4 linked regions of the Homo sapiens genome follow. The protein of the gene in region 3 interacts with the protein of the main gene of each other region in a biochemical or structural test. Each region holds a gene or a part of one and is shown on either strand. Other genes may lie near its edges. The genes, in order: PNRC2, NSMAF, DCP1A and EDC3.

Region 1 (9,090 bases), on a different chromosome or scaffold from region 3:
CCACAGGTGTGAATAGTTGGGGGACAGGCATTGTTATGGTCTTACATGTAAATAGATGGCTCCGATATACCATTATTTTGGGGGGAGTGAGCACGGTGTGTTCCAGATTTCCTCTTCCTATCAATGCAGGTAGCAGTCTCAGCCTGTTTCATAAATTCCTCTCAAGATCGCTGCCCATCTCTCCGTTCAGCCATTGGAGAGATCGCTGCCCGTCTCTCCGTTCAGCTTTGGCCTGGGGACTGAGGCCAAAACTCTGGAATGGGCCAAGAATTAGACGGCTGGGATCAACAAACTAGCAAGGAACCCCATGGCCGAGCTTGGGAGTCCACCTGTGTGAAAATCACTTTTAAAAGCTAATCTAAACAACTCTGGGTGTTCCGGAGCTAGTTTCTGACTTGTTGGGGTTATTTGGTGTTATCACCAACTTTGAGAATTACATAGGACAAAGGGGGTCTCCTTCATAAACATGCCTCCACACCAGGGGATTGCCCTTAGCAAAACTGAAAGCAGTGATTCTCAACTGGAGTGAGACATTGGAATCAACTGGATTGGAATAGCCGCAGCCCCGTGCTCAAAGATTCTGATTCTGGGATGGGGTCTGGGCATCAGAATCCTTTAAGGGTCTTGAAGGTTGGACCCCTGGATCAGCGTCGACAGGAGGCGTGGGAGTTCATCATTGACTTCCTGTGCCCCGTTTAGTAATTAGACCAAAATGGCTGCAATGGTTAAGAACAGATTTGACACTTCTCAGGAATGTCTGAGCAAGCAGGGAGGCAGCAGATGCTTCCCCAGGAAATGAATTCATGGTGTGGGGAGGGGTGTGTGTTTTGCAATCAGTTTGGCAACAAGATCAGAGCTCTGAGGCACATCGAAACAGTGGGCAGGTGTTCCATTTCACTCTTCTGGCAGGTTCTAAGAATTTGCTTGCTTCTTCAAACTGAATTAAGCCCTGAGCGGACAGACCTGCAAAAACATTCAAAGTTGACCATCTGATTTCATATATGAGCTTAAAGAAGAAAAAGAACCAAACCAGCTTTTGTTTTGAAATGGACTCGCTAGGGCGGGGGTGGAGTTGGGGGATAATATTAAAGTACCTAACGTTTTTAGCATGTTCTGTTTATTTTTGAGACAGGGTCTTGCTCTGTTGCCCAGGCTGGAGTATAGTGGTGTGATCATGGCTCACTGCAGTCTCGACATCCTGGGCTCAAGGAATTCTCCCACTTCCGCCTCTCAAGTAGCTGGGACCACAGGGGCACACCACCTCCCACTCCCAGCTAATTTCTGTAATTTTTGTAGAGATGGGGTTTCACCATGTTGCCCAGGCTGGTCCTGAACTCCTGGGCTCAAGTGATCCTCCCGCCTCTGCCTCCCAAAGTGTTGGAATTACAGGTGTATTCTAAATCTACATCATAAAAGTGCTTTTACATTTATTATTTCATTGGCTCCTACCATGAGCTCTACAAGACAGGGAGGATTGCCATTCTACAGATGAAGAAACTGAGACTCAGCCTGAAGGCCAGTCGATTCTACTATATACTTATTCCAAAGCCATGGCAAACCTGGGTGATTTCTCCAACTACCCCGGCACTGGTGCAGTTGTATGCCTCAGCCTACAACCTGTCTCTCCCCCAAAGCTGGGCTTTCAGAAACACTTTCTTTTTTTTTTTTTTGAGACAGAGTTCTGCTGTTGTTGCCCAAACTGGAGTGCAATGGCGCGATCTCGGCTCACTGCAACCTCTGCCTCCCGGGGTCAAGCGATTCTCCTGCCTCAGCCTCCCAAGTAGCTGGGATTACAGGCATGCGCCACACGTCCAGCTAATTTTTTGTATTTTTAGTAGAAACAGTGTTTCACCAAGTTAGCCAGGCTGGTCTCGAACTCCTGACCTCACGTGATCTGCCCACCTCGGCCTCCCAAAGTGTTGGGACTACAGGCGTGAGCCACTGTGCCCGGCCCAGAAACACTTGCTTTTTGCTCCACCTCTACTTACAGATTAGGTAGATAATGTTTTCCTAATGATTTCATTGATTTTGGTTGCCACTGATACATAGCTCAAAACAGATCCTCCAGTGAAAAAATTTCAGCAAGTTGTGAGAGTCCCCCTCCTTTTCTACTTTATTTGCAGGGTCCAGTAACAATGTTTGTTACCTGCACCTCCTGAGTGAGGTTAGCAGGCTGATTTTGGCCTTGCCTGTCCTTGACTCTCAGGGGAAGAAGGGAGGGAATAAATCTTCCCAGACACTAGTTTCCCTCTCTGGTAAATTGTAAAGGAAACAGCTTTTGGGTTCCTTTAGGGCCAGGATGGAGCCTCCTTCACTGCTGTATCCCCAGAGCGTGGCATAGTGCCTGGCACAAAGTAGGCACCAGATAAATCTTTGCTAAATATTTTGTATTAAACATCCATGTATTTATTATGCATTTGGCTTCCAGTTTAGGTGAGCTGTATCCTGAGAGCTGTTTGTCGGCATCAACATTTTCCTATTTGAATTGAGAACTGCTAATAGGATTGTGCTGGTGGAGCTGAGTTTAAAGACCATATGGTTCTGGCAGAGGCTGTATCAGATGTCCCAAAAAAGGTATTATTTTAACTTCTCCTCTCTAGTTCTGAGCTGTTGCGGGCACTTGGTAAATACTAATGAATGATGAGGCTGGAGCTAGCCTGAGAGGGTGCTGGGAGTCTGGGACGCAGTAAAAGCTTTAACAGTGCTTTCCCCAAGGGCATCTCGACTCTGACCTTCTGGCAAAGAAACTGGTTCTGCCAGATGGTAGGATGGAGGCTTCTTGTTGCCCGAACAGCCCCGGCAGCCCAGTCAACAGTCAGTGTCTGCTCTGAGCAAAAAACCTTTTAGGTGCTGGAGAGCACAGATGCTGCAGGCAACCTGCAGCCTGGCCTCTTGAATCCTAGTACCTGGCTTTCAACTCGAAACCGTCTGAGCCTTCATCTGTACAGTGCGGATGAAAACAGCTCCTACCTCACAACATTATTGTGAGGATTAAATGAAATGATGTAAGAAAAAAAAATTTAGCACAGGGTAGGGGGCAGAGTAAGGATACTCTGTGTGGGTTTATACATTTCCAATGTTATGTGTGCGTTTATGCAGATAAAATTCAGAGTGGCTGAAGAGATGAATTTTTTTTTTTTTTTTTTGAGACAGTGTCTTACTCTCACCCAGGAGTGCAGTGTTGTGATCGCAGCTCACTGCAGCCTCTACTTCCTGGGCTCGGGTGATTCTCCCACCTTAGTCTCTCAGGTAGCTGGGACTACAGGCGTGTGCCACCATGCCCAGCTAATTGTTATTTGTAGAGATGGGGTTTTGCCATGTTGCCCAGGCTGGTCTCAAACTCCCGCGCTCAAGTGATCCTCCTGCCTCGGCCTCCCAAATTGCTGAGATTACAGGTGTGAGCCATGCCCTGCCATGAAAAGACTAACTCTAGACTGCAATGGCTTTGAATAATTTTCTAAACGTTTAGAGTTTAGATTTTATTCCGTATCACAATTTGGAGCCACGGAAGTGTTTTTTTGTTTGTTTTTTGTTTTTTAAAGTGACACCATTAAAAATTCATTAAATACAGCTGGCTATTATCTGGCTAGACGTCTAAGCAAACTTCTTGAATGTTTGGAAAACAGATTACACTTTCACTAAGACACCTGTTGGTTTACCACATACTTCTTATTTGAATATGATTAGCATCAGAAAGTCCCTATGCTCAAAAATACCTCTTTTATCAAATTAGATTAACAAACTGCATCCCGTAAGATGCAGTAACTTTTCTTAAGATCCAATGGCTAGAATATAGGAATTTGGGTTGGATTGGGAAGTGGGGGATAACGGTGGCAAAAAATTGAAGATTAAAAAACGAAATACAGGCCGGGTGTGGTGGCTCACGCCTGTAATCCCAGCACTTTGAGTGGCTGAGACGGGCGGATCACGTGAGGTTAGGAGTTTGAGACCAGCCTGGCCAACATGATGAAATCCTGTCTCTACTAAAAATACAAAAATTAGGAGGGTGTGGTGGCAGGCGCCTGTAATCCCAACTACTCAGGAGGCTGAGGCAGGAGAATCGCTTGAGCCCAGGAGGCGGAGGTTGCAGTGAGCCGAGATTGTGCCACTGCACTCCAGCCTGGGCGACAGAAGGAGACTCCGTCTCAAAAATAACGAATTACATGAGATTTATAAAAAGTTGGTAAATATAAATTCTGTAACGTAAACTTGGGTATATATGTGTATACACGAACAAACTGTGAATGAGACTGATTTTGTACCGTTTGGCCCAGAATTATTCACGCTCATTGAAATTAGTGCTCTTTTAAAAGATTCACATTGGGTTACTTATACATTTACTCCAAAGAAATTGCCATTTTCCCCTTACCTGCATCTGGCTGGCATAATCAACTGAACAATATTCTCTTTCTTCCCCTTTTTCACTTACAAGTGGGGCAGAAAGGGGAGGAGAGCAGTCCTCATTCTTTCAGCAAACTTACTGTGCACTTACAACGCGCGAAGGCGCTGTGCTCAGAGAAACAAAACCTAACCGGTTGTGGCCCTCGAGGGTGTGTGGGTGGGGAGAGCTGCAGCCACAGGAAACGGTAACACGGCGCGTAAAGGGCTCTAATTGAACTTAAGGACCAATGGGGCCACCAAGCAGGAAGTGACTGACTTGCCCGCGTGTGTCTGAACCGCCTTCACAGGGAGGCAACTTTTGAGTAATTGCGGGGCTGGAGGGTGGGGGCACTGGAGGGAACCGCGGGGAGGCGCCGGCTTCGGACGCGGAGTTGTGGGTGTGGGAGAGAGGCGACCCAGAAGCCGAGGCCCGAGGCGGGAGGGGGCTGCGCCCTGGCAAGAGGCTTTCCGGAGTATCTTCCATCTGTCAATACAGGCTACAGGACTCAGTGGCCCTAATTCGAGAACCAAACGTCCCCCGCCGGTCAGTCTTTTCCCCCAGGGCAGTCCCAAGGGCGGCGAGCCCGCGCGCACGAGAGCCGAGCGGTAGGAAGAGCCGAGAGCTAGCGGCCGGGGCCTCGGCGGGCCAGGGGCGCGGAGAGGCCGCCGGAGAAAGGACTAAGACACCGGTGGACCGAGCAGTTACTCCCGGCATGCTCCTCCTCCCCGGGCAGATTTCAAACCCTCTGCAGCCCCACCTCCGCGCCTTCGCCCCCGGCCAGCCCCAGCAACAGGCGGCGGCCCGCTTCTCATTGGCCAGGCCCGCGCTGTCGTGTTTTGATTGGCCGCGGAGCCTCCCGGCCCTGCTTCTGCAGTCGCTGCCGACTCCATTTTGTCGGTAGAGGCAGAAGGAGAAGGTCGGGTTGTAGAAGCTGGGGTGGCCGGCAGCTCGCTCATCGGTGTTCGTGGGCTTTGTCGGTCCGTGCCTCGTCTCTCCCTGGAAAGGGAGGGAGGCTTCGACGTCGAGAGGGAGCCGCTGCCGCGTTAGTTCCGAGCTTGAAGTCAGTAAGTAGCGGCTGCGCTAAGGGCGCGGCCATGTTGGTGGCCGCGCTCCCCATTGTTGGAGGAAGGAGGCGAGCGGAGGCGAGATCCGGGTAACCCGGGCGGGCGCGGGCGGTCACGGGCGGTCGCAGCGCCGCGACCCCTGCGGCTCCGGAGAGATGGGGCCACTGGGAAGCCAAGCCCTTGTGGCGTCGGAGGAGGCGTTTTCCGGGTTCGAGTTGGGAATTACTCACAGTCCGGAAATGGCAATTTATTTAGGGTTGTTTATCTGTTTGGAAAGCTCTCTTACCCCTTTGAAAGGAGGGGGCTTAACTATTTGGTAACTTATTTTCTTGGAACATCAAATTAAAACCAAACCTTGAAAGTTAAGCTGTTCCCTCTAGGGAGACATTTTTATATATTTAAGATGGGCTTAGACTGTTAGGGCTTGTGAGAACTTATTTTAAGACGGGGAGGAGGCGAGAGCGTTCATAACCAAAGGAAACACTGCGTGATGTCTACATGTTCCAAGAGACTGAAAATGGATGTGACATGTGTGGAAAGATTGGAAAATTCTGGTGGGAGTTTAAAAACACGGTCTCTTTAGAAAATCCGCCTGAAGCCAATTTTTTGATATGACTCAACATTTAACACTTCCTTGATTTTATACGCGAGAGAATCTGAAGGTCTTTCCCAGGAAAAAGATAAAGATAAAACTTATTGCGGGACTTGGAGACACTTACAAAAATTCCCCAGGAGTGACTGGATCTCAAGGGTGAAGAGTTTTTTTAAATGGTCGTGGTTATAAGGTCAAAGAAAGCCATCTTACGAGAAATTTTCTACCTTTTAGTTCAGGAAGTAGCCTTCTTTACAGTCAACGATTTTCGTAGTAAATCTAAATGATCACTTTCTCAACGTGTTTTTGAAATAATGAAGTAATCTTTACTTTTCTAGCTAGGACTTCTCTCAAACTTGTGTGCTGAGGAGACTCAGATGTTGGCCTCAGCTCCTAGGCTGAACTCAGCAGATCGGCCCATGAAAACTTCTGTATTGAGACAAAGGAAGGGATCTGTCAGAAAGCAACACTTGTTATCTTGGGCTTGGCAGCAAGGAAGAGGACAGGTAGTGGAGATCCTGCAATCTGAAAAGCAGACTGAAAGGTAATCATCATAATGGGCAAACATTTTATGATGGAACCATCCTAAACCAATTGTTTTTATTTTAAAATAGATTATGTAGATTTGTGGGTAAGCTCATTTTTCTTAGGGAAGGTATAACAATAAAGGTTGTGCATATATTGAAGTCTGAACGGCTTGCTTTTTTGAGTTTAAAGCAGCTGAATAGCCTGTTATTGAGTCTTGTCCAAAATATCTGGAGTTATAAGTTGGAGCCATAGAAGCTTCTTAAAGATTTTGAACTTTTCTTAATGGAATTTTACTCAATATTTGTTTCCATTCACTTGTAGGTGACAAAGAAGCTGAAGATGGGTGGTGGAGAGAGGTATAACATTCCAGCCCCTCAATCTAGAAATGTTAGTAAGAACCAACAACAGCTTAACAGACAGAAGACCAAGGAACAGAATTCCCAGATGAAGATTGTTCATAAGAAAAAAGAAAGAGGACATGGTTATAACTCATCAGCAGCTGCCTGGCAGGCCATGCAAAATGGGGGGAAGAACAAAAATTTTCCAAATAATCAAAGTTGGAATTCTAGCTTATCAGGTCCCAGGTTACTTTTTAAATCTCAAGCTAATCAGAACTATGCTGGTGCCAAATTTAGTGAGCCGCCATCACCAAGTGTTCTTCCCAAACCACCAAGCCACTGGGTCCCTGTTTCCTTTAATCCTTCAGATAAGGAAATAATGACATTTCAACTTAAAACCTTACTTAAAGTACAGGTATAAAATAAGACAAATGTTTAAATTTAGTTATGTTCACGGATAGTTGTCAATTGGTCTGAAACAAATTCGCTAGGGAATCTATTTGTGTAGAACTAATTAATGTAAAAAAAATAGACCATCTCGTGTTGTGTGCACTGTGATATAATGGTAGTATCAGTGCAACTTAAACTAATGATTGTACTTGATATTAAGTGTTCTCAACTGAGTAACTTTTAAGTGGAAACCAAGTTTAGATTTGGGGAGTGGTAAAGGAATCAGCTTTTTCTATTGTTAGGGGAAGACAGTAATTTATCATTCATGGACCAGTAGATTGTTGAAAGTTGGTGAATCGGATTATAAGCTTCTAGCTAACACAAGGATTCAGAATTAGGTAAACATCTGAAGGTTTAGTATATTAGAAACACCCAAACCAGTAATATGCTAACCTGATGCACTGCTGAAAGAAAATGTGAATTTTTCGTAATAATTGCATTTTAGTGAATTGTACAGTGGGTGGAAAGGGCATTTGGAGCTCATTAGAATGAGACATAGTACACCCCAATGGCCCTGTTTATTAAATGTAGTGGATTAAGTGTCTGTCAACAAATACACCAAAACCATTTTTTATAGAAACAGTATTTAATGGTCACTCAATAGCTTTCAAAATACATTTTTGTATTACAGCACTGCACAAGCTATTCTAATAGTGCTCTGGCCTCATCATTCCTGCAAAGCTTGCTTTGGGGAGTTGGATAATGTGAAAATTTTAAGTACCTAGGGGAGAAAGAGCCATGTAAATATCTGTAATAAACTTGTAGCATATGTAAAGTTTTCTTGGCCTTTATCTTACAAAAATGGAGTATTTTAGTATGAATTTGCTGAATGTAAGACCGTGGACTGTTTTTTATAATATGGCCTAATTTTAAAGGTCCAAAATAACTTGTTTTTAAAGTTTGCCCTTGTGCTAAAGTGCCAGTGTATGTATGTTATACTTGATTTGGTTGTAAACTATATTTCAAAGTAAACCCTAGTGTAATAAGTTTTATAACTAAAAAGGTTTAAGCTGCTAAAACTATTTTTAAGAGATGTGAAATGCAGTATGGGACTATCTTTTTTTCCTCCTCTAAGCCCAAAGATTAACTAGAGTCCCTCCAACCTTATAGATTGTTGGCTTTCACAATCTTATAACCTAGGATACAGGTAGTTTCGAGTATGGTGCCAGTGATGTTTTGTTTTTGTTTGGTCAAGGGGTAGGTGCAACCCAATGGACCACTTATGCAAAAGATGTAAACTCTTGCATAATACATTGATAACATGTTTTGCCAACTTTAAATGCTTAAACATAAGCGAAACCAGTAGCAAGTATGTGGGTCAGCTTAAAAATTTTGATTGTTAATGCCCTATTTTCTAATTTGGCACCTCTTGATGCCTAAGCAGGTAAGCAGATGCCTAAGCTGTATTTCTCCAAATAAATCAAGATGAAGTACTGCCCAAGTTAAATATTGATAGCCTAAAGACAAGTTTATGTAGTACTTAATGTACATGATATGAATGTGAAGCATAAAATTAAATAAAATTTTTCCCCATTGGCTTGGTTTTATTTTAAAAATGGTTTTGATTGCTTAATATTCTTTTTAAAAATGTGTTTTACTTGTCACTGACTTGAAGCTCATAATACACTCACAATATTCCAAACTCTTGGATTTCTCAGACTCCAGAACTATGAACCACTACATTTCTGATCATATATATATACGTATATATAAAAAAGGTCACAACTAAAATGTGAT
Region 2 (8,438 bases), on a different chromosome or scaffold from region 3:
TTCATAGCCAACACTTAGCTCTATTTTTTTTTTTTTTCTGTATTCTAGACACGCTACCAGGAAATGCCTGAACCAAAGTTCATGTATGGGAGTCACTACTCTTCCCCGGGTTATGTACTTTTTTATCTTGTTAGGATTGGTAAGATTCTTTATCATTACCCCCAATTAAATTTTATTTCACTGTATTCTTCAATGATTCTGTGACCTGACTTACCTCTGACTTTTTCCCCTCTAGCACCAGAGTATATGCTGTGCCTGCAGAATGGAAGATTTGATAATGCAGATAGAATGTTCAACAGGTTTGATACAAATGCCTTGCTTATCATTTTTAACACTTTCTGATTGTATATATACAACATACTTGTTTCAAAGCACTGGATATAATAAAAAAGTAAAGAAATGTAAAAAATCACTAATTGTTCTATCTATTCCTCTCAGGCTTTTTCTAGACATGTATATGTGTGTGTAAATGTGAGAACATATTTTATGTACAGCTTTTTGTCCTACCTTTTGTAGCCTAATATTAAATCTTAAAGTTTTTCCCATATTATTAGATATTCTTCAAAACAATGATTCTTTTTTAAAATTATTGTATCACATTCTAACATATGCCATATTTTATGTCAACTTCTTTTCTCCATTGTTGGGCATTTAGATTGTTTCCCACACTTTATTATTCTTGATAATTTTGCTGTGAATTGAATACAGCTCCCTGTGTGTATTTAGATGGCTTTACTTTTTAAATTATAAAAGTAATATTTTCTTGCCAAAAAAATCAGCAACTATAAAAAAGGAAATAAGTTTACTTGGTATCCCACCACACTGAGATAATAATTGTTGTAAATTTTTTGGTATGTCCTTTTCATTTTTTTTGAACTCTACACATATCTAATAATAATTCCTTTTGCAATGAGCCATTCAGATAGTGGTGCTAATCTTTTTTTTTTTTTTTTTTTTTTTTTGAGACAGAGTCTTGCTCTGTCGCCCAGGCTGGAGTACAGTGAGCAGAATCTCAGCTCACTGCAACCTCCGCCTCGGGTTCAAGCGATTCTCCTGCTTCAGTCTCCTGAGTAGCTGGGACTACAGGCGCATGCCACCACGCCCAGCTAATTTTTGTATTTTTAGTAGAGATGAGGTTTCACCATGTTGGCCAGGATGGTCTTGATCTCCTGACTTCGTGATCCACCCGCCTTGGCCTCCCAAAGTACTGAGATTACAGGTGTGAGCCACCGCGCCCTACCAGTGGTGCTAATCTTTCAGTGTGGAGGCACCCTGCTCCATTTGGCCCTTGGATGAGGCAATGTGTATATGGTAGCTAATGGTGTGGACTCGGACTCTATGCCCACTCCCGCCATGTGACCCTGGAGAAGTTACATAAACTCTCTGGGCCCCAGTGTTCCCTTTTGTTAAAGTGGGACACTCAGAGAGATGGTTAGAACTATGTGGAAATGACAAACAGAAGTTAATACAGGTAAAGTGTAGAACAGCCCCCAAGTGCATAGGAAATGCTGCTATTGCTATTTCCTTAGCTGAAAATAGGTGAATTTTTTTTTCATATGTAGTATTGCAGAAACTTGGAAAAACTGTCTGGATGGTGCAACGGATTTTAAAGAGGTAAGCAGTTAATAAAGCTGATGAGTAACTGGACTTGGGGTTTCTAACTGCTTTAAAACATGTTTGTTGTTCTTTTTTATTTTTCCCCGAAACTTTCAGTTAATTCCAGAATTCTATGGTGATGATGTGAGCTTTCTAGTCAATAGCCTGAAGTTGGATTTGGGAAAGAGACAAGGAGGACAGATGGTTGACGACGTGGAGCTTCCCCCTTGGGCTTCCAGTGAGTCCCCCCTTGGAGGTGTTGTATTATAGACATGCTTTACCAAGTAGTGCAATTTCAGTAATTATTTTATTGCTTAGATTTTTAAAAATCACAATATAATTCTCTAAATAAGGATATATGAGCCCTATTCCATATCAGAAGTATTCTATGAGTCTGTGATGTAAAAACATTAATATATATTTGAGAGACCTTAATGTGAAAATGATTCTTGCCACTTTTTTCCCCAAAAAACTTACATTTCATATGATAGAAAAAGAAAACTGCATTAAGAAATATGGACCTCTTGCCTGTCCTAGAAGCTTTATATACATATAGATAGACAAGAGAAATGGGAGGAAAAAAATGAAGACTCCATGATTTTTCGATTGAGTCTAATCTAATAGGTCCCGAGGACTTTCTCCAGAAGAGCAAAGATGCATTGGAAAGCAATTATGTGTCTGAACACCTTCACGAGTGGATTGATCTAATATTTGGCTACAAACAAAAAGGGAGTGATGCAGTTGGGGCCCATAATGGTATGTAATATTCATTGAAATTTTATTTAGCATTGGGTGAATATTTAGCATTATTCATTTTCATTGGAAAATGAAAGCAAACAATACCAACAAAAAAATGAGGCCAAAGCAATTAGTCTTATTTCTTCAGTGGAAGCATGTTCTGTCAGACTCCAGCGTCCACTGGCTGCATGACCCTGGATCAGATATTTTTTTGGTTTTCTTTTTGAGATGGAGTCTTGCTCTGTCACCAGGCTGGAGTGCAGTGACACAATCTTGGCTTACTGCAACCTCCGACTCCCTGGTTCGAGTGATTCTACTGCCTCAGCCTCCCGAGTAGCTGGGATTACAGGCACCTGCCATCATGCCCAGCTAATTTTTTTGTATTTTTTTTGGTCGTGACGGTTTCACCATGTTGGCCAGGTTGGTCTCAAACTCCTGACCTCAGGTGATCTGCCCACCTCGGCCTCCCAAAGTGCTGGGATTACAGGTGTGAGCCACTGCGCCCAGCCCCTGGATTAGATATTGAGTAACTGACAAGGAGGGAGGACTTTTGCCCAAATAATACCAAATTCATCCTGGCCCCAAGAGGTCTTTTTATAAAGTCTTCTAATTTTAGCATATACTCTACATCCCACTGAATAATTTCAATTAAAACTCTATTACAGTGTGATAGAACAGTGGCCTCAATTCCTATGGAAGACCCAGAGTTTCTTTTCCTTTTCTTTTCTTTTTTTTTTCTTTTTTTTTTTTTTTTTTTTTGTTTGAGACAGAGTCTTGCTCTGTCACCCAGGCTGGAGTGCAGTGGTGCAGTCTTGGCTCACTGCAACCTCTGGCTCCTGGGTTCAAGCAATCCTCCTGCCTCAGCCTCCCAAGTAGCTGCCAGAGTTTTTTTTTTTAATTTAACAGAAAATAGCAGCAATATACCTTCTCTTCAGTTTCAATGCTTATCTTCTTCCACGTTTCTCATGTGTGTTTTCTTTTTTTAATAAATGAACTCACATATAATCCATATCGCCCATGTTCATAACAAGGAGCTGTAGCTGGAAATTCAGACCTAATTTTTTACATGGAAATTCCGTCTTATTAATTCTATAAGTCATGCTTCCTCTCAGGAGAAAACAATGCTGACTGAGATGACAGGTCCTCTACCTGACAAGTAGATTTTTGTTCATCTGAAGATAATATTCAAGTTGGTATTTACTGCAGTTGGATATTAGTCTGTTTTGCAAAGTGAATAGCAATTTCTTTGAACATGAGTTTTAAGTTGTTGCATTGTTTAGGTTCTAAACAGTGTATATTACATTGAAATAGCACATCTTTCAATAGTGTTTTGTATGTCTTTTTCAGTATTTCATCCCCTGACCTATGAAGGAGGTGTAGACTTGAACAGGTACTTATATGTCAATAAGGAGTTTCTACTTGAGTTATAAGATATGTCTTTATCTAAATTATTAATGTATTTATTTGAAGGTTGAGGTATGGAAATTTTAAAATGAATTCTATCTTGCTTTCACTGTTGTGTTACTGAGCATCAGAAAATATTCTGAAGGTCTATAATGAGGTTTAGACAATCCTGGTACATAGTTGCTGTCATTATTTGAGGGTTAGTCCCTCCTATTGATCAGTACTATTTGAAATGCGTGCTTTCAAGGAACTCGAACCTAGTGGTTCACTGCATTATTTGTGTTCTGTCCCAAAGCATCCAGGATCCTGATGAGAAGGTAGCCATGCTTACGCAAATCTTGGAATTTGGGCAGACACCAAAACAACTATTTGTGACACCACATCCTCGAAGGATCACCCCAAAGTTTAAAAGTTTGTCCCAGACCTCCAGTTATAATGCTTCTATGGCAGATTCCCCAGGTAAATTTTGTAAAGAGAATAAACGTGAGCACCTTTTGTTTCTCTTCTGTGATGAAAATGTTTCTGAAGAGGAGATAAGACGTATACTGTTGTGCTACTTAGAGATGATTGTGTTCTCCTGCCTTATTGCAGTTCTCCTGAAAACAGATACCTGTTTTTGCTGATGTTGTTTGTTTTCAGCTATAGACTGTAAGGGAAATCAAATCGCTTTTATTTTCTGGCAATTGAATATGAGTGAAAGTTGGCCATATATGTTTTGATGTGGTTCTCTTTCTCTTCTGTGGTTTTGAAGCTGGTGTTTGATCCTTAGCTATTTGCCTTTTCATTCTTACAGTCCTAGCTGTCCAGTCTGCCTTCCCAGTCACTGTCAGCCCTGCTGTCTTCCAGAAGGGACTTTCTCTGGCCCTAATTATGCTCTTCTATACCCACATACAGATCTTTTTTTTTTTTTTTTTTGAGACGGAGTCTTGCTTTGTCCCCCACGCTGGAGTGCAGTGGCGCCATCTCGGCTCACTGCAAGCTCCGCCTCCCGGGTTCACGCCGCCGTTCTCCTGCCTCAGCCTCCTGAGTAGCTGGGACTACAGGCGCCCGCCACCACGCCCGGCTAATTTTTGTATTTTTAGTAGAGACAGGGTTTCACTGTGTTAGCCAGGATGGTCTCGATCTCCTGACCTCGTGATCCACCCTCCTCGGCCTCCCAAAGTGCTGGGATTACAGGCCTGAGCCACCGCGCTCGGCCCCACATACATCTTGAATTCAAAGTGCTCTCTCTTCTTCATTGGATTTCACTTATTTAACATTTGACAAACATTTACAGGGTATCTGTTCTGCGCTGGGCATGTGCTAGGCACTAAATTGAACTTGACCCAGTTCTCACATCTAATATTTGGAAAGGTAGGAAAGAACACTCACCTTTCTCCAGTTACCCAGGTTTTAGATTTTACCTAAGACAACTTCAAACCTACAGGCTTCCAGAAGGAGGTTGACACTCTGTGGAGCTTTGGGAGCAAAATCACTTTTTATCTCCTATCCTCCTGTCTGTTCCAAGGACATCCAGACATTTTAGGCATACATAGATGAGCATTCTCTCAAGCATGGAGAAATAGCTTCCTGGAGTTACATGACCCAGGGGTAGCTTCTTTAAGAGAGAATACTCTAGAGGGTTAAATCATGAAGATCACAGGATTATCTTGTGATGCTGTTTCAAACTGCACTCTGCTTAGTCACCAGGCTGTAACCACTGTCATGTGATTGTTTTAAGATGGTAATTGTTTCAGCCCTTCTTAAAGCAGAAGTAAAAGGATTACTCCTGCCAGAAGCCCTTGCGGTAATTGATTTCATCTCTGCTTTCCCCACCCCACACCAGAACAAAATTGTTGCATTCTTAGGCAACTGTCAGGTTTTTGAAACAATGTTGACAAGGAAATGATGACTCAGTCTTGTATTTCCCCAAATTCATAAGTTAGAGGCCGAGTGAAAACTTTGCAAACATTGTTAAAGTATAAAAAGATTCTAGTATTATTCAAAGATACTTTTTATCTTTCTCTATACAATTTTTTCCTTGACTAACGTGGAACCATCTAACAGGTACATTTCAAAGCAGTTATATTGTGACAGGGTGTTTCATTTCTTAGTTGTTTGATTTTAATAGAAAATATTGTTAATCTGATGCTGTTGTCTGTTGGTAACTTAGTTGACTTAGCAAAAATTTAATGTCGTCTCTCCAGGTGAAGAGTCTTTTGAAGACCTGACCGAAGAAAGCAAAACACTGGCCTGGAATAACATCACCAAACTGCAGTTACACGAGCACTATAAAATCCACAAAGAGTAAGAATATCTCTGCTTCTTCTCAGCAGCTGATAGTCCTGGTAAAAGTTAGGGTCTTGGCATGGGATTAAACTGTTTTAAGCTGAGTCAGAGGGAAAATTCCCTTTCAATGTTGTCTTTATTTTTAAAAATCTCCCCAAAATGTCTATAGTGATCTCCACCTGAGGTTGATGTAGTAGGGAAAGTTTGGCACGAAATGATTTGTGGTGGCTACCGTGCTGTCATTTCTGCAGTCTGTCACTTCACAGTACAAGATGTGGTCGGCAGAGAGCAGCCAGTTTTGTGCCTCTCAAATTGGAGTACACAGCTCCTTGAATCTTTGATGGGAGAAGTGTGATGTATACCCCACGAGTGTTGGATTTACACATAATGTAGGTGAAAAGGCACCTTTTAAAAAAATTAGCTCTCCCAGAGAACATTGCAAAGTTCACATGAATTTTAAAAATAATTATGCTTCTAAGAAATTGGGCTTGCTGTTGGACCCAGAGATGATATGTGTGTTCTCTGCCCTCTCTCATTAAGACCTTCATGTTCTCTGGTAGAAAGGCTCGAGAAGCACTGACCTAGCCTGTTCATCCTGCTACAGAGAGGAAACCCAGGTCCAGAGACTAGGCCCCACCTAGCTCCATGACGACAGACAGCCCCTCCGGCATACAGGTCATGGGTGGAGCTGGGCATACTGCTGTGCATTAGATGGATGGCTTCACATCACAGTCCAGCCTCCCGAAGAGAAACAAGGAGTTTTGGCTGATTCATGATGACAATGGCTGTCTTTTCTCAACTTCTCTAAATGGCACATAGGAAGGGACCTTGTAATCCAAGGTAGTGAAGACTGAATGATCCTTTAAGAGGACAGGCTGGAACCAATTTTCTCATCATTGAATAGTCACTGAGTAAATTAGCTTCAGTAATCAGCAAGTGAAGTGACTGTGAAGAAGAGTTTGTCCTTTTGGTGATGGTCAAACGAGGGGGAATAGAAGGAGAAGAGTTTTCCAATTGCCAGAAATTGTCAGGAATATGTAAAGCATTGCATGTGGAACACAGGGAAGCAAAGAGTGGGGATGTTTTCTAGCCACAGGCGTTGCCAGAACGTTAGAAGGTGCCAAGCAGTGATTTGGTAATGGCAGGTTTATGCTGGGACAGATCCGGCAGACATGCTGTGAAGAAAAAAATTAAGGAAACTTGGTAAAATTAAATCAAGGATATGAAACAAAGAGGGTATCCTAACACATGATGAGTAGTAATTTGTGAAACTTTGTTTTTGAGCAGAGCAGTTACTGGAATCACGGTCTCTCGCAATGGATCTTCAGTATTCACAACATCCCAAGGTCAGTGTTCCTCCCCGAAAGGCGGCTTAACCAAAATCCTAGAATGTCTGAGTTCTTTATTATTTAGCTCGTGGTCAAGGACTGCACTTGCATGTGCTGCCTCCACATAAAGTAAACTTAGAGCAGTTCCTTTGTGGTACATTACATAGAGTTTCATGGTAATTTGCCAAAAATAATAATGAAACATCTTTCTGTTGCTGATGAGGTTTCCCAGAGTTGAGGATAGAGGACAGAAACAGCCTCCTTTCCACACCCTTGCTGGGTCAGGCACTTCCTGCCTGCCCATGAGAGGTGCGCTGTCCACTTGTTGGGGTTGGCTGTGAGTAGCAAGTGCTGTATCAGAAATTGATGTGTGCCTGTCAGCACGTGGAAATGCAGATTTGCTGTTACGGTTTGCAGTTTTGTCATTCAGTGTATATTTCTTCGGGATATTTGATTTAGCTCAAAATCAAATTCATGTATTATTTAATATGCTTATACATTATCAAAATTATAAAAACCCTTGCAGTGTGTCATTGATATGACTTATAGCTGTAAAGCAGAAAGCATCCCTTACTATATACACCATTGTTCTCTCCCTGGTAGTCTGCATTATATATTATTCATTAAAGTATGTCTTGGCCTTGTCATGTTGAGAGCACTGTGTTGGCACTCTGGAAGATGCAGAGATGGAAGGGTAGTATCTTTGCTTCCTGCTTCCATGAGAAAACAACTTGTTCTGACAAAGTTTGTAACTTTATAAAGTAAGGCTACTCGTTATTTAGTCTTTATCATAGGAGATTATATTTTTCATTCATTAAGACAAAGTGCTATCCAACTAAACACTTTCAGGAAAATCAGAATTACTACTCTCAGATTCTGTTATCATTGTTTATGATCTGTAGCATTTCATTCTGTTCTTTTTCAAATACTGTCTTGGATTGTATATAAAAAAATTTTCCACAAAGCATAGAAGTGATTCTACACAGTAGATCAAAAGGAAGTTCATGTGCAGTTCCCAAACTGGGCCATGCCAGGGTCACCGAGGCACTTCTCTGATAGAAGGAAGCAATCTGTATTTTGCCAGGATTTCTACCTGTGGAGTTT
Region 3 (5,615 bases):
CTGTGGTGGTTGGACTTGGCTTCCCGTAATGATTCTAGGACATTCTTACATAAATGGGCTGGTCATCCTTTAGCTAATGGAAGTTTATAACCAGATGTCAGATGTTCACATGTTCCTACTGAATGTTTACCTGAACTCAAAATAGTCTGTCTCTGTGCTCCACTCTTCTGCTGCTTATGCCTGTTTCCACATGGTCCCTATTCTGGGCCTGGCTACTGGCTTCTGCACTTCGGTACAAAATGACCATTGTCACTCTCCAGGTTGCAGGCGCCCCACTGGTTACTGCAACGACCACTGCAGTGTCTTCAGTCCTGCTGGCCCCAAGTGTTTTCCAGCAGACAGTTACAAGATCTTCGGACCTTGAGAGGAAAGCCAGCTCCCCTTCTCCTCTAACTATTGGAACGCCAGAAAGTCAGAGAAAGCCTTCCATTATTCTCAGCAAGTCTCAGCTCCAGGATACATTAATACATCTAATAAAGGTATGTAGGATACCAATTTTATCTTTGATTTTTCATTATTTAATGAAAGAAATTTTATAAATTCCTCTTACAGAATCAGTTCATAAAGTAAATTCAAAAGACTAGCTGGAGGCCAGGCAAAGTGGCTCACACCTGTAATCCCAGCACTATGGGAGGCCAAGGCAGGCAAAAAAAAAACAAAAACAGACTAGCTGGGAGTACTGTTTCTCTTTTTTTAAGCATACAGTCCTGGTGGAGAAATATCTGCATGAACTCAAAATATTAATCATGATTGTCTCTGGGTGGTGGGATTATCAGTTATACAAATCATTTATACAATTTTTTTCCTAAGCTGTTACCAAGGAAGTAAAATCTGATGAGGTAAATGTGGCATTCGTATCCTTAACCTTTACCATCTCTTCTAGAATGATTCCAGCTTCCTCAGTACACTTCATGAAGTCTACTTGCAGGTTCTGACCAAGAACAAAGACAACCACAACCTATGACTGGAGCAGAATAAGTCTAAAGGCAGAGCCCCAGCCTCAGAGACAAATAGGCTTCATCATGGAAACTTCTGAGCAGAACATTGAGTTTGAGAATCCTGAAATTGAGCCTATGAGAAAGAGACTCATTTCTTAAGAATGTTTTCCAAGTGACATTCTCAGTGATAATGGAGGTTTCACTGTGAAGCATCACCAGCAGATCCTTGTTTTGACAAAAAAAAAAAAAAAAAAAAAAAAAAAGAGAGCGATCATTGTGTTAAGTTATGTGGGTGTTTTCATCAGCTAGGAGCAAGGCTGTGGAATAAGGAGTCAGATTCTCAGCTTGCTTTCACTTTCAAGGACTTACAGAGGAGTAGTCACCAGCCTCACAGCAGAAGTTCAGCCCGGCCCCCACCGCTTCCCCCAGCCTACCCCATAGAAACGGGCTTTGGGCTGACAAGTCAAGTTTTGAACAGAGTAGAAGGCAGCTCTGCAAAGTAGCTTCTAGTTTTTAGGACCAGAATTTAAGCCGGCAAATTAGGAATTATTTCCTCAAGTGAAGTATATTTTATATGAATGCCCCATTTGGGCCTTAAAAGTTGTGAAATTTCTTAATAGCATTTTGTTTTTAAGTGCCCCAGTCCTGCCCTGCAGCAGGCCCCCAGTGCAGCATTACCATTTGAATAGGGCACTGTCAGGCTCTGGTGGTGTGGACACAGGCATGTCATACCTTTGAAGGAAAGGCTGGGGCTGGGAATGCCCACATCCTATCAAATCTTCATTTTAGGTTAAACTCTCCATTGGTTCTGAAAATGCTAAGTTTGTGTGTGAAGCACAGCCTTATTTTCCTTTTCTGTCATTGTTGATTGTTTTCCTTAACACTTTGACAAAAGGACCAGTGGACCAATCTGACAAAGCCATTCTGGTTCCTTTCCTTGAGTGTACTGAGAATAGTTTTAAAGCTATGCAGAAAAGGGAGCTGTTATTCACACTGCCCTTATTTTGTTGTAGAATTATGGAGTTAAAAGAAAATGTGATTCCGAACTCTACCAATGTATTCCTAGGCTGTGAGTACTTTCCCGGCCCAAAGTGTGAAAATATGTAAAGAAGCTTTGTTATGCTGCTATTGATCTGCCATGATTTCTATTTATTCTTTTATGGCATGTAATGGTGTTTAGTAATATTTTAATGTAGATTTTGATTTATTTCAGCAATAGTAATTTTAAGATATTCTTTGAATGAAAGTGTCTTCGTTTCTATGATACAGGTCATTTTGTAGTATTTAACCAATTAAGATGCACTGCTTACTTTTCTGAGCACTATTTAATGATGGGGTAAAAACCCAATTGGCTCAACCAGCTAGCATAAGGATTAGCTGTGAATAATGCTGACAGATATGATGGTTCCTTAGGAACAATCATTTAAGCTTTAATGGTAACTCAATCATAAGTCCATAGATTATTTTTTTCTAGCTAAAATTTTAGAAAATTACTTGTGAATTACATACTTGTTTTAGTTTGGTCTTAGTTTTTAGCATAAAGAATGATTGGCTTTTGTTGATCTAAACATGCTTCCTGGACAGGGTTTCTGCTTCTCATTTTAGTGTCTTCTATTGCTGTCTACCTAATTATGTGTGAATTGTGCAGAATTCAGGGAAGCTTATAAGTTTTCATGCTCAATTGTGAATAGTTTGTTTTCACAGATAGTATGTAAATTAAGCAACCAAAAATGAATTCCTTATGCATCATCTGGGAACGAGAAAGCTATAGTGGGATACAGAGTGTTGCTGACACCGGGAGATGGTGTCCAGGGAGCCACGTGACTTCCATAAAGTGGACGCACCAGTAGGTGTGATTGCACCTCAAGTGTAGTCTCAGTGGGCTTCGGTGAACAGACGAATCAAGGGATTCTTGAATCGAAATTATGCTTTTGAGTATGTAATATTATGAGAGAGTTAAGAGAGAATATCCTAAAGAGAGTCTGTGATCATACTAATTTTCACCTTTAATGCTAGGAATGGATATGATAGACAGTAAAGAGCATCTATGATAAGGCTTCCTTAGTGTGAAAGTAAACTTAAGTGCCCAAGTCATGGAGACTTGAAAAGGGTAAACCTGTTTCACCTCCCAAATTTATATATTCAAAGTATTTACTTAAAATTCAGAAGCCAGAAGTTCATGTCATGATTACCAGGAAGTTCAGGCCAGAATGAATCCCTAGAGAAGCCAGGCCAAGCCTGGATAATTGCAGCTGGATGACCCTGGCCCGAAAGTCACAGTTCAGTTGCCTTATTCCTAGTTCAGGCTTACTATCTAGAACCTCATGCTAGCTTAGGTTGCATGTTTACATTGCTGCAGTGTCTTTACTGGAAGCTTAGTTGGATCGAAATGGACACCGAGATGGAGATGCTTCTGGCTAGATTTCGCAGAACCCCAGGAGACCTGCATTTAGACCACTCTGTCCATTTGTGTGCCCACCCCCACCCCCAGGGTCTAAGTGTAGACTCCAAGAGGAGCAGCCCAGAGCTTGGAGGAGAGGTGTGTCTGGGGCACCACTGGTGGGTGGTGCTGCTCTTCTTTTTGTTGTAGTTAATGCGGTGTCTTTTAATGGACTCTCAGGCCTCCCAGACAGCCTTGTTCCTTTAAGGCAGAAGCTCTTCTTCATTGTGTACCTCCTGGGATTCATGAGGTGTGAGATTTGGCCTGCTTGACTTTGAATTCAAGTTTTTCAAGTGACTCTCAGTGTCAGAAGAAGCATTTCATGCTGTCCACATGTGGTATGTCCACAGCTCACCTTCAAAGGCTTAGATGTAGCCATCACAGAGAGTGGTATTTTATTAAGAACCCAAGTCCCAGCCTGACCAACATGGTGAAACCCCATCTCTACTAAAAATACAAAAATTAGCCGGGCGTGGTGGCACGCGCCTATACTCCCAGCTACTTAGGAGGCTGAGGCAGGAGAATCACTTGAACCCGGGAGGCAGAGGTTGCAGTGAGCCAAGATCACACCACTGCACTCTAGCCTGGGCGACAGTGAGACTCCACCTCAAAAAAAAAAAAAAAAAAAAAAAAAAAAAAGTCACGCTGGGCCCCTCTCTACAGGGGGACACACAGGCTTAGTTTAGTATATGTCTAACCAGATTTTGCATGTCAAGCATTTGTCCTTTTCCTGGCTTATGTTTTCTTGTAGAAATTATATAAACCCTATCAAATCCACTACTAGGTAAATTTTTAAACCATGCAGCTTTATTACTCTCCTCCCCCAAAGAATGTAGTTTGAAATTTTCTCATTTCCATAGTAGAGGCCCTAACTGCCATTGTATTACTAATAATGCAACATGAAATTGAAGGTGCCTAACTGCTCAAAAAACAAAATCAGCCATCATACTGTAACTCTGAGAGGAATGAGAGGTGGCACAGGCACGAGTGGGCTCAGCCCGTGTGAGTGAGGAGAACTGAGGAATCCTAGGGTGCGCATCCTGCATCCTGGCTGCACGTTTGCTGCAGAGTATGTTTTTCTTTCTTGCCTCCCTTCAGTTTTCTTCAGTTGCGTTCAGTGTATCTTCTGGAACCAATAGTGCCCTGTGTTCTCAAGTCTCTAAAATGCTAAGATCTGAGCAAAGTCAAGCAGCTTACACTAGGCTTTTTTACAGCTGTGCTTGAGAACATTTCCGAGTGGACCAGGGCCTTGAGGAGCCTGTTTTTCAGCAAATTCAACAGATGTGTGCAGTGATTCCCTCCGTTTTGTATTTGACACCTTCATTTAAAATGCTAAGATGCAATATCATTCACTTCAAAGTGGGGAAAATGCAGAATTGTGTTTCCTTTTTATCTGTGTGATTCCTTAAGAAACATGTTTTTAAAATATGTGTTCTAAATGGTTTTTTATTCTGTATTACTGCTTTGGCCATGTGGCTCTCATGACTTTCATTGTACCAGATTCTCAGCTCCCTGAAACATGGGGACGAGAAGCTCTGGAATTACAGCAAGATTTTTGTTCCATGAGCGCAATACTGTATCATTAACATTTTTAATGGTATGGATTTTATAGCATCTGTGTATGTTTGCAAATATTAAGTTATTACATGTTTTAAAATGAGCGTTTTTCATCTTAAATTTTATATGTTTGCAAATATATTTTTTTAATAAAATTTCAAAACCAAGTTTTAGCACCTACTAAAATTTAATTGTGTTTTTATTTAATTTGTAGAAATAGGGACTTTTGAATGAGTTGCACTTTTGCAGAGTGCCATACTGGTGAAATGGGATGAGGCAAAAAAACAGAACCGACAAAACTGTTATCAGATCCTTTTGTACTTCTTAAGCATAAGGATTAGGTGTTCACACACAGGTGTGAGATGGGCCATCCTGAAACATTGCTACAATGTCGGCATATTACCTGTCTGACACAGAGAAAAAAGAAAACTGTTATCTACCTGTTTCCAGCCTGTATAGTCAGGGTTCTCCAGAGAAACAGACCTGAGAGAAGATAGAGTTATGTACCATGTGATATTTCAGTCAACAACAGACCACATTTATGACAGTGGCCCCATAGAATTACAACCCTATTTTTACCCGACCTTTTCTGTGTTTAGATACACATATACTTATCCTTGTGTTACAGTTGCCTACAGTATTCGTACAGTCACATGCTGTACAAGTTTGCAGCGTAGGAG
Region 4 (8,438 bases), on a different chromosome or scaffold from region 3:
TTTAACACTTAAAAAAAAAAATTTTTTTTTTTTGAGACAGAGTCTCACTTTGTTGCCCAGGCTGGAGTGCAGTGGTGCGATCTCTGCTCACTGTAACCTTTGCCTCCCAGGGTGAAACGATTCTCATGCCTCAGCCTCCTGGGTAGCTAGGATTGCAGGTGCGTACCACCACACCCGACTAATCATTTCTATTTAGTTGAGACAGGGTTTTGCCATGTTGACCAGGCTGGTCTCGAACTCCTGGCCTCAAGTGATTCGCCTGCCTCGGCCTCCCAAAATGCTGGGATTATAGGCATGAGCCATGGTGCCCAGTCCATTTAACACTTTTGATTGAATATGTACTTGTCTTTTCCACTGACCAGACTGAGTTCCTGTGGGCACGTAGTGGTTTTCATCTCTATATACCAGATCAAAATAGTTCATAGTGCAGGGCTTACCACATAGTAAGTATTTTATATACTCCTGTTGAATGAGCGAGGGAGTGAATGAATGAACAAAAGCCATTAAACATTGTGGGAATGTAAGATTAATACAGTTTTGTTGTTAGCAATAGCCTCTCTTTTTTTTTTTTTTTTTTTTGAGACAGAGTCTCGCTCTGTCGCCCAGGCTGGAGTGCAGTGGCGGGATCTCGGCTCACTGCAAGCTCCGCCTCCCGGGTTCACGCCATTCTCCTGCCTCAGCCTCCCAAGTAGCTGGGACTACAGGTGCCCGCCACTATGCCCGGCTAATTTTTTTTTTTTTTGTATTTTTAGTAGAGACGGGGTTTCACCGTTTTAGCCGGGATGGTCTCGATCTCCTGACCTCGTGATCCGCCCGCCTCGGCCTCCCAAAGTGCTGGGATTACAGGCGTGAGCCACCGTGCCCGGCCAATAGCCTCTTTTTAAAGGCTAGCATTGTGTCAGTTGGATAGTTGGTGGCTGACCCCTGTCCTTAAGCACACAGCCCCCTTTCCTAGCCTCTGATAACTCAATAAAATGCAGTCCTGCAAAGGGGTAGCTGTTTGCTAATGATCTCAGTTTCATCATTCTTACCACTATTATAATTTTGAGACTTGGCTTTTTTGTGTATTTCAGGGCAGGTGACATTACGGAGTTAAAAATTCTGGAGATACCAGGACCTGGAGACAACCAACATTTTGGAGACCTTCATCAAACAGAATTAGGCCCCTCTGGTGCTGGCTGCCAAGTGGGCATCAATCAGAATGGCACAGGCAAGTTTGTCAAGAAGCCAGCCTCTTCCAGCAGTGCCCCTCAGAATATCCCTAAGAGGACAGATGTGAAGAGCCAGGATGTTGCCGTTTCCCCGCAGCAGCAACAGTGCTCAAAGAGCTATGTCGACAGGCACATGGAATCCTTGAGTCAGTCCAAAAGTTTCCGTCGTCGGCACAACTCCTGTAAGTAGGGTCAAGTTGATATTTCTTCTCAATCTGGTGTTTCAGGGCTATAAGCCATAAGCACTGCTGCTCTTTAAACAAATCCTTTGTTATTCCAATAAAATGGATGCTGGCTGAGCGTCACAGAAATACAACATGGTTCTCTTCCTCCAGGCCTCATTCCTCAAGATGTTAAGGGAAAGGAAATAAGCTGTTAGGGATGCCTGTGAGCTTCCTGCCCTCTCTTACCACTTCCTTCAGGAAAAGTCTGCCCAGAGTTTACTAACAGTGATGTTTTAAATCCAGGAACTACTGGGCGTGGTGGCACGCATCTATAGTCCCAGCTACTTGAGAGGTTGAGGCAGGAGGATTGTTTGAGCCCAGGAGTTCAAGGCTAGTCTGGGCAAAATAGTGAGATTCTGTTTCTGAAAAAGAAAAAAAAAAAAACTTAAATCCTGTTACTGATGTTGGTAGTAGTGTTTGAGTTGAACCTGCACTTGGGCTGTTCCAGAGGATTCTTGAGTAACTTTTCTTCCTGTGATTTGAGTCTCATCCTCAGAAGAGAGGAGGGGACTGATCCAAACATCTCTGTGATCTTTGATTTTCTAGCAGACAATTTTTAATTTGCTGTATTTGTTCCTACTGACACACCAAGAAGAATGTGCATTGGTCTCTGTTGCTGCCCAGTTTTGTTTGATACTAACACATTATTAAATGCCATTTGCTGATTATAAAACCATAGTTGTGACCAGGCACGGTGGCTCACACCTGTAATCCTAGCACTTTGGGAGGCTGAGGCGGGCAGATCACCTGAGGTCAGGCGTTTGAGGCCAGCCTGGCCAACATGTTGAAACCTCGTCTCTGCTAAAAATACAAAAATTATCCGGACGTGGAGGTGCATGCCTGTAATCCCAGCTACTTTGGAGGCTGAGGCAGGAGAATCCCTTGAACCCAGGAGGCAGAGGTTGCAGTGAGCTGATATTGTGCCACTCCAGCCTGGGCGATAGAGCGAGACTCTGTCTCAAAAATAAAATAAATAATATAAAATAAAACCATAGTTGTGTTGGTGGTATGATGGTGAGCATAGCTGCCTTCCAAAACCATAGTTAATTCACTAGAACTGTTCTTCTCCAACATATTTACTAGAATAATGTTACAATAGCGAATCATAACATTCACTGGAATCTGTTATGCTCCTTAAATTAATATGAATGTTGTTTTAAAAAATTACTTCCAAATGCCAAACTATTCTTATTTTACTTAGATGGTTTTGTACTCACAGATGGTAGCAGAATGTATTAGAAATTTTAAGTGAGAGGCTGGGTGCAAGTGGCTCACACCTGTAATCTCACTACTTCAGGAGGCTGGGGCAGGTGGATCGCTTGAGCCCAGGAGTTCGAGACCAGCCTGAGCAACATGGCAAAACCCCATCCCTACAAAAAAAAAAAAAAAAAAAAAAAAAAAATTAGCTGGGCGTGGCAGCGTGCACCTGTGGTCCCAGCTACTCAGGAGGCTGAGGTGGAAGGATGGCTTGAGCCAGGGAGGCGGAGGTTGTGATTAGCCAAGATCATGCCACTGCACTTCAGCCTGGGTGACAGTGTGAGACTGTCTCAAAATGAACAACCAAAAGAAATTTTAAATGAGTATTCATTAACTCATTTAAAATTATAAGCTAGAGTCATGCTATGGCAATACCTTCTAAAAGGCACAATTTAGAGTGAGCTAGGTCTCTCTAGACCCCACTCAGAAAGTTTATTACATAAAATTCCGGATACTTCTTGCTACCATTGTTGCTCCTCACACTGTGGTCCTGGTGGCAATGTAGTAAGGTTTTAGTGTGCTGGGTGAATTCTATTAGTAGCTTGTGGTGTGACACCTGTGTCAGGGGCCAACATTTTAAGTTTTGGAGATGCCTGATTCAAGTGAATAAACAACTAAATTAAAACTAATTTTTTTTTTTTTTTGAGATGGAGCCTTGCTCTGTTGCCCGGGCTGGAGTGCAGTGGTGTGATCTTGGCTCACTGCAACCTCCACCTCCCATGTTCAGGTGATTCTCCTGCCTCAGCCTCCCTAGAAGCTGGTACTACAGGCACTTGCTGCCATGCCCGGCTAATTTTTTTTTTTTTTTTTTTGAGACAGAGTTTCGCTCTTATTGCCCAGGCTGGAGTGCAATGGCGTGATCTTGGCTCACCGCAACTTCCGCCTCCTGGGTTCAAAAGATTCTCCTGCCTCAGCCTCCCGAGTAGCTGGGATTACAGGCATGTGCCACCACGTCTGGCTAATTTTGTATTTTTAGTAGAAACGGGGCTCCATGTTGGTCAGGCTGGTCTCAAACTCTCGGCCTCCCAAAGTGCTGAGATTACAGGCATAAGCCACTGCGCCCGGCTAATTTTTGTATTTTTAGTAGAGATGGGATAATGCCATGTTGCCCAAGCTGATTTCGAACTCATGACCTCAGTTGATCTGCCTGCCTCGGCCTCCCCAAGTGCTGGGATTACAGACGTGAGCCACTGCACCTGGCCTAAAAAAATGTTTTAATGTATGTAATATACAGTTTCAAGGTAGTTTCCTTTGGTGCATATGAAACAACTATCTGAAATGACGATGTTTGCAAATATGAGACTGAAATTCAGTTGTGACTTCTGTATCCTTAGAAAAACTGTAGAATGCTTGGATAGAAAATGATTCTTTCCATTTAGACTTTAACCTTTTTCTTTCTTTCTTTCTTTCTTTCTTTCTTTCTTTCATTCATTTTTGAGACAGGGTCTTGCTTTGTCACTCAGGTTGGAATGCAGTGATACGATCACAGCTCACTACAGCCTTGAACTCCCAGGCTCAAATGATCCTCCCACCTCAGCCTCCTGAGTAGCTGGGACTACAGGTGTGTGCCACCATACCTGGCTAGTCTTTTTACTTTTAGTAGAGACAAGGTCTCACTATGTTGCCCTGTCTGAAAATCTTTTTTCTTTTAGCAGAAATTGTTGATTTGTTAGAAGTTCAAATAGGCAGTTTATAATCTTCCGTGCACTTGAAGATGACCCTTATTAGCAATTCATATTATTTTTTTCTACACATTTTTCCCCGTTATTAACGTCTTACATTTGTATGGTATACTTGTTATAATTATTGAACCAATGTTGATGCATTATCATTAAACAAAGTCCATATTTTATTCAGATTGCCTTAGTTTTTACCCGGATGCCCTTGTTTCAGGATCCTGTCCAGCATATCACATCATATTTGGTAGTCATTTCTCTGCTTGGCTCTTACAGTTTCTCAGACCTTCCTTGTTTTTGATGACCTAGACATTTTGATGAATACTGGTCAGGTATTTTGTAGAATGTCTCTCAGTTGGTACTTGATGTTTAAATCATGATTAGACTGGGGTTATATGTTTGGGGGTGGAAGACAACAGAGGTAAAGTACCATTTTCATCACCTTGTGTCAAGTGTATATATTATCACCATGGTTTATAACTTTTGATGTTCACCTTGATCACCTGGCTAAAGTAGGATATATCTAGTTTCTCCTCTGTAAAGTGACTCTTTCTTCCCCTTTACATATGTACTCTTTGGAAGGAAATCACTATGTGCAGCCCACACCCAGGGAGTGAGAAGTTATGTCCCCTCTCCTTGAGGACACAGCATCTTCAGACATTACTTGGAATTCTTTTATGCCAGAGATTCCTCTCTTCTCCCCCATTTGTTTATTTATTCAGTCATTTATTTATATCAGCATGTACTCATGGGTATTTATTTTATACTTTGGCTTATAATTCAATATTACTTTATTTTGGTACTCAAATTATTTCAGTTTTGGCTAGTCTCCAATCTTTCACTTGGATCTCATGTCCCTTTGACATACTCCAATCATTGTGGATTTTATTTTTTTTTTTTTTTAGTACTTAGGTACTTTCTCACACTGAAAGATGCTTACTACTACCACTACTACTACTACTACTGCTGCTGCTGCTGCTTCTCCTCCTCCTCCTCCTCCCTCCTCCTCCCTCCACCCCCTCCCTCTCCCCCTCCCTCCTCCCCCCTTCTCCTTTCTTTCTTCTTCACTAGGGATGCTCATTGCTCCTGGGTGTCACCCTTATAGCTGACAGCAAGAAAATGTGTATACTTCTCTGCAGAGTTCACAGAAAAGAAAATATATGTGTGTATATTTAACCAGCATATATATACATATTTAAATATTTCTATATGTAACTATGTATATTGTACTATACTAAGTATGAGTTCATACTGATGTCTCCAACTTTAATCCATTACCACATGGATCCTTCTAGCCTTCTCCTTTTGCTTGTCTGTTACTTCTCACTCCAACAGTGAGAAACCTGTCTCCTATTGTCATTCATTCTTTACATAATTATTCAATTCCAGTATACATGTATAGTGGTATCAGAATTATTAACTTGTATCGCCATTCCTGTGGGAGACTATCAAACAGAATGTGGTGCTTACGTACTGTTTCTTTTGCCTTTCATCTGACTCCATTCATTTCTAGAGTTATTTAGGTCTCCCATTTCCTTCATTGACTTGTTTCATATATTCATAATACAATTAATTTGTTTTATCACATTCTGCATTCCATCCTGGGATCTTCTAACCTCCTAAATGATTTTTAAAAATTTGCAAACACTAAGGCTCACTCTTTGTGCTGTAAAATTCTGTGGGTTTTGACAAATACATAGCATCATGTATCTGTCATTACAGTATTAAACAGAATAGTTTCATTGTCCTAAACAATCTCTTGTGCCTTACCTGTTCAACTTCCCCCACTTCCCCCTGGCAACTACTGATCTTTTTATTATACCATCCCTGCAGTTTTGCATTTTTCCAGAATATCACATAATTAAAATCATACAGTATGTAGCCCTTTTCAGACTGGCTTCTTTCACTTAGCAAGATGCATTTAAGATTCATTCATGTCGTTTTGTGACTTGATAGGTCATTTCTTTAATTGACGGATAATGTTCCATTGTGTGGATATATCAATTTGTTTACCCATTCACCTATTGCAGGACATCTTGGTGGCTTCCAGGTTTTGGTTATTCTGCTTTTGCTGTTTTGTCAGTTTCCTTTTTCTAGATTGTTAACTGTACATAAATGAGGTAAAGAGATCATAGGGCAGTAAAATGTTACTATTTTTCAAGAAACTTATGTAGAATCCAGATTAGTTTGGAAAATGTTTGTGGCCTGGGAATGGCAATAAGACGTGGCTCAGAATAGGTTTCTGATAGAAGGTAGAGTTATAATTATTTTTCCACTCATTGAGCCCTGTAAGTAAAAAGGTCTGCCTTAGAATTTTCTCCAGTTTATGTACATTGATATTGAGACTAGTAGATTGATGAAGCTATAGAAATATAATCTGTCGGCCGGGTGTGGTGGCTTATGCCTGTAATCTTAACACTTTCGGAGGCTGGGACGGGCAGGTTGCCTGAGCTCAGGAGTTTGAGACCAGCCTAGGCAACATGGTGAAACCCCGTCTGTACACAAATACAAAAAATCAGCTGGGTGTGGTGGTGGGTGCCTGTAATGCCAGCTACTCAGGAGACTGAGGCACAAGAATTGCCTGAACCTGGGAGTCGGAGGTTGCAGTGAGCTGAGATTGTGCCACTGCCCTCCAGCCTGGGCAACAAAGCAAAACTCTGTCTCAAAAAAAAAAAAAAAAAGGAAAGAAAGAAATATAATCTGTCTTCAGTTCTGGCTTTTAAGTGTTCTTTCAGGATTGCAATAAGGAGTTGAGGAATTTGTTGGTTTATAATAGTTAGCTAATCCAACACTGATGATTTAGCACAAGCAGATTTTAATCTCTTTTCGGGTGGGAGTGGGTTTAAAGAATCATGTAAAGAATAGTTTTTCTGTGACCATTCAGAATGTTTGTCAAATAGACATAACATCAGTCCCAGGGAGCAGAGGGAAACCAAGCCTTGTTTAGGGTGCAGCTCTGTGTATGGGTATAATTCATATTTATCAAATCCCATGTCACAGCTGAAAATGGTGACCATGAGGGGCAGATGAAAGGCATCCCTCTCTGAAATCTTAGTCTATGAGCTTGAATAGTCATTGTAACATGCAGTTGAATAAAAATTTAACAGTTAAGTTAAGGCTCTTTTGCCTGTAGAACATGAAAGTAGATAGCTGAGGCTGGGCATGATGGCTGATGTCTCTAATCCCAGCACTTTGGGAGACTGAGGTGGGCAGATCACCTGAGGCCAGGAGTTCGAGACCAGACTGGCCAACATGACGAAACCCTGTCTCTACTAAAAATACAAAAAATTAGCTGGGCCTGGTGGTGCATGCCTGTAATCCCAACTACTTGGGAGGCTGAGGCAGGGAGAATTGCTTGAACCCGGGAGGTGGAGGCTGCAGTGAGCCGAGATCGTGCCATTGCACTCCAGCTTGGGCAACAAGAGTGAAACTGCATCTCAAAACAAACAAAGTAGATAGCTGGCCTTTAACTCATTTATATTTAGAGAGAGGTGGTCCTATAGGCATGACAGTGCCTCTGTTTAGTGCTGATTTCCCTTTTTCTCTTTGTTACTGGAGGTGGAGAGAAATGAGGGATGGAATTGAACCTTTTAAATGGAAAGATGGTCGATATTATCTTGTTGCAGTATGGTTGGGCTTTAACGGTCTGTTCATTTTAACAGTCATCCCACCACCTGAGGCAGGAAGTGAATTTTGCCAGGTTTTCATGGTTCTACTGAGGTTTTCTTGACTTTTAAACTTCCTTGGATGTGCTTCATATATCTAATAGGCTTGAAAACCCAGGGCCTAGAATTTGAGAGTTGAGAAGAAGGTCCCATATATTCTCAGGCACCTTCTCATGATGCCTGTTTAATCTGGCAGTAAAACATTTGTAGTTTAACATTCAGGTACCCTTTAGTGTGATAAGTGCAGGACAAAGTTCCCACTTACAGTGTGTGTGTGACAAAAACCAATAAATAAGTGGCACTGAGGGTTACACAACAATGGGTTTGTTACAAGTTGTCCTGGCCAAAGGGCCTCTGTGCCAAAGGGTGGCAGAAAAACGGCACAGGAAGGCAGCCAGCCTGCAG

The links.
Region 1: the proteins of DCP1A (region 3) and PNRC2 are reported together in a solved structure, tested with the Homo sapiens proteins (one study listed by IntAct).
Region 2: the proteins of DCP1A (region 3) and NSMAF form a complex in vitro, tested with the Homo sapiens proteins (one study listed by BioGRID and IntAct).
Region 4: the proteins of DCP1A (region 3) and EDC3 form a complex in vitro, tested with the Homo sapiens proteins (one study listed by BioGRID).

Annotation. Positions count from the first base shown.
Region 1 is NC_000001.11:23,954,554-23,963,643, forward strand, and holds PNRC2 (proline-rich nuclear receptor coactivator 2), read left to right. Parts: upstream 1-5,274; 5' UTR 5,275-5,445; intron 5,446-6,375; 5' UTR 6,376-6,581; intron 6,582-6,886; 5' UTR 6,887-6,904; coding exon 6,905-7,324; 3' UTR 7,325-8,909; downstream 8,910-9,090. UniProt on the Homo sapiens protein: Involved in nonsense-mediated mRNA decay (NMD) by acting as a bridge between the mRNA decapping complex and the NMD machinery. May act by targeting the NMD machinery to the P-body and recruiting the decapping machinery to aberrant mRNAs.
Region 2 is NC_000008.11:58,593,146-58,601,583, reverse strand, and holds part of NSMAF (protein FAN), read left to right. Parts: intron 1-48; coding exon 49-139; intron 140-235; coding exon 236-299; intron 300-1,562; coding exon 1,563-1,614; intron 1,615-1,713; coding exon 1,714-1,834; coding exon of another isoform or gene 1,835-1,852; intron 1,853-2,087; exon of another isoform or gene 2,088-2,220; coding exon 2,221-2,352; intron 2,353-3,660; coding exon of another isoform or gene 3,661-3,681; coding exon 3,682-3,724; intron 3,725-4,033; coding exon 4,034-4,197; intron 4,198-5,508; exon of another isoform or gene 5,509-5,524; intron 5,525-5,727; exon of another isoform or gene 5,728-5,784; intron 5,785-5,924; coding exon 5,925-6,024; intron 6,025-6,729; exon of another isoform or gene 6,730-6,814; coding exon of another isoform or gene 6,815-6,846; intron 6,847-7,293; coding exon 7,294-7,352; intron 7,353-8,438. UniProt on the Homo sapiens protein: Couples the p55 TNF-receptor (TNF-R55 / TNFR1) to neutral sphingomyelinase (N-SMASE). Specifically binds to the N-smase activation domain of TNF-R55. May regulate ceramide production by N-SMASE.
Region 3 is NC_000003.12:53,282,929-53,288,543, reverse strand, and holds the end of DCP1A (mRNA-decapping enzyme 1A), read left to right. Parts: intron 1-260; coding exon 261-479; intron 480-883; coding exon 884-964; 3' UTR 965-5,115; downstream 5,116-5,615. UniProt on the Homo sapiens protein: Necessary for the degradation of mRNAs, both in normal mRNA turnover and in nonsense-mediated mRNA decay. Removes the 7-methyl guanine cap structure from mRNA molecules, yielding a 5'-phosphorylated mRNA fragment and 7m-GDP.
Region 4 is NC_000015.10:74,664,410-74,672,847, reverse strand, and holds part of EDC3 (enhancer of mRNA-decapping protein 3), read left to right. Parts: intron 1-1,073; coding exon 1,074-1,393; intron 1,394-8,139; exon of another isoform or gene 8,140-8,438. UniProt on the Homo sapiens protein: Binds single-stranded RNA. Involved in the process of mRNA degradation and in the positive regulation of mRNA decapping. May play a role in spermiogenesis and oogenesis.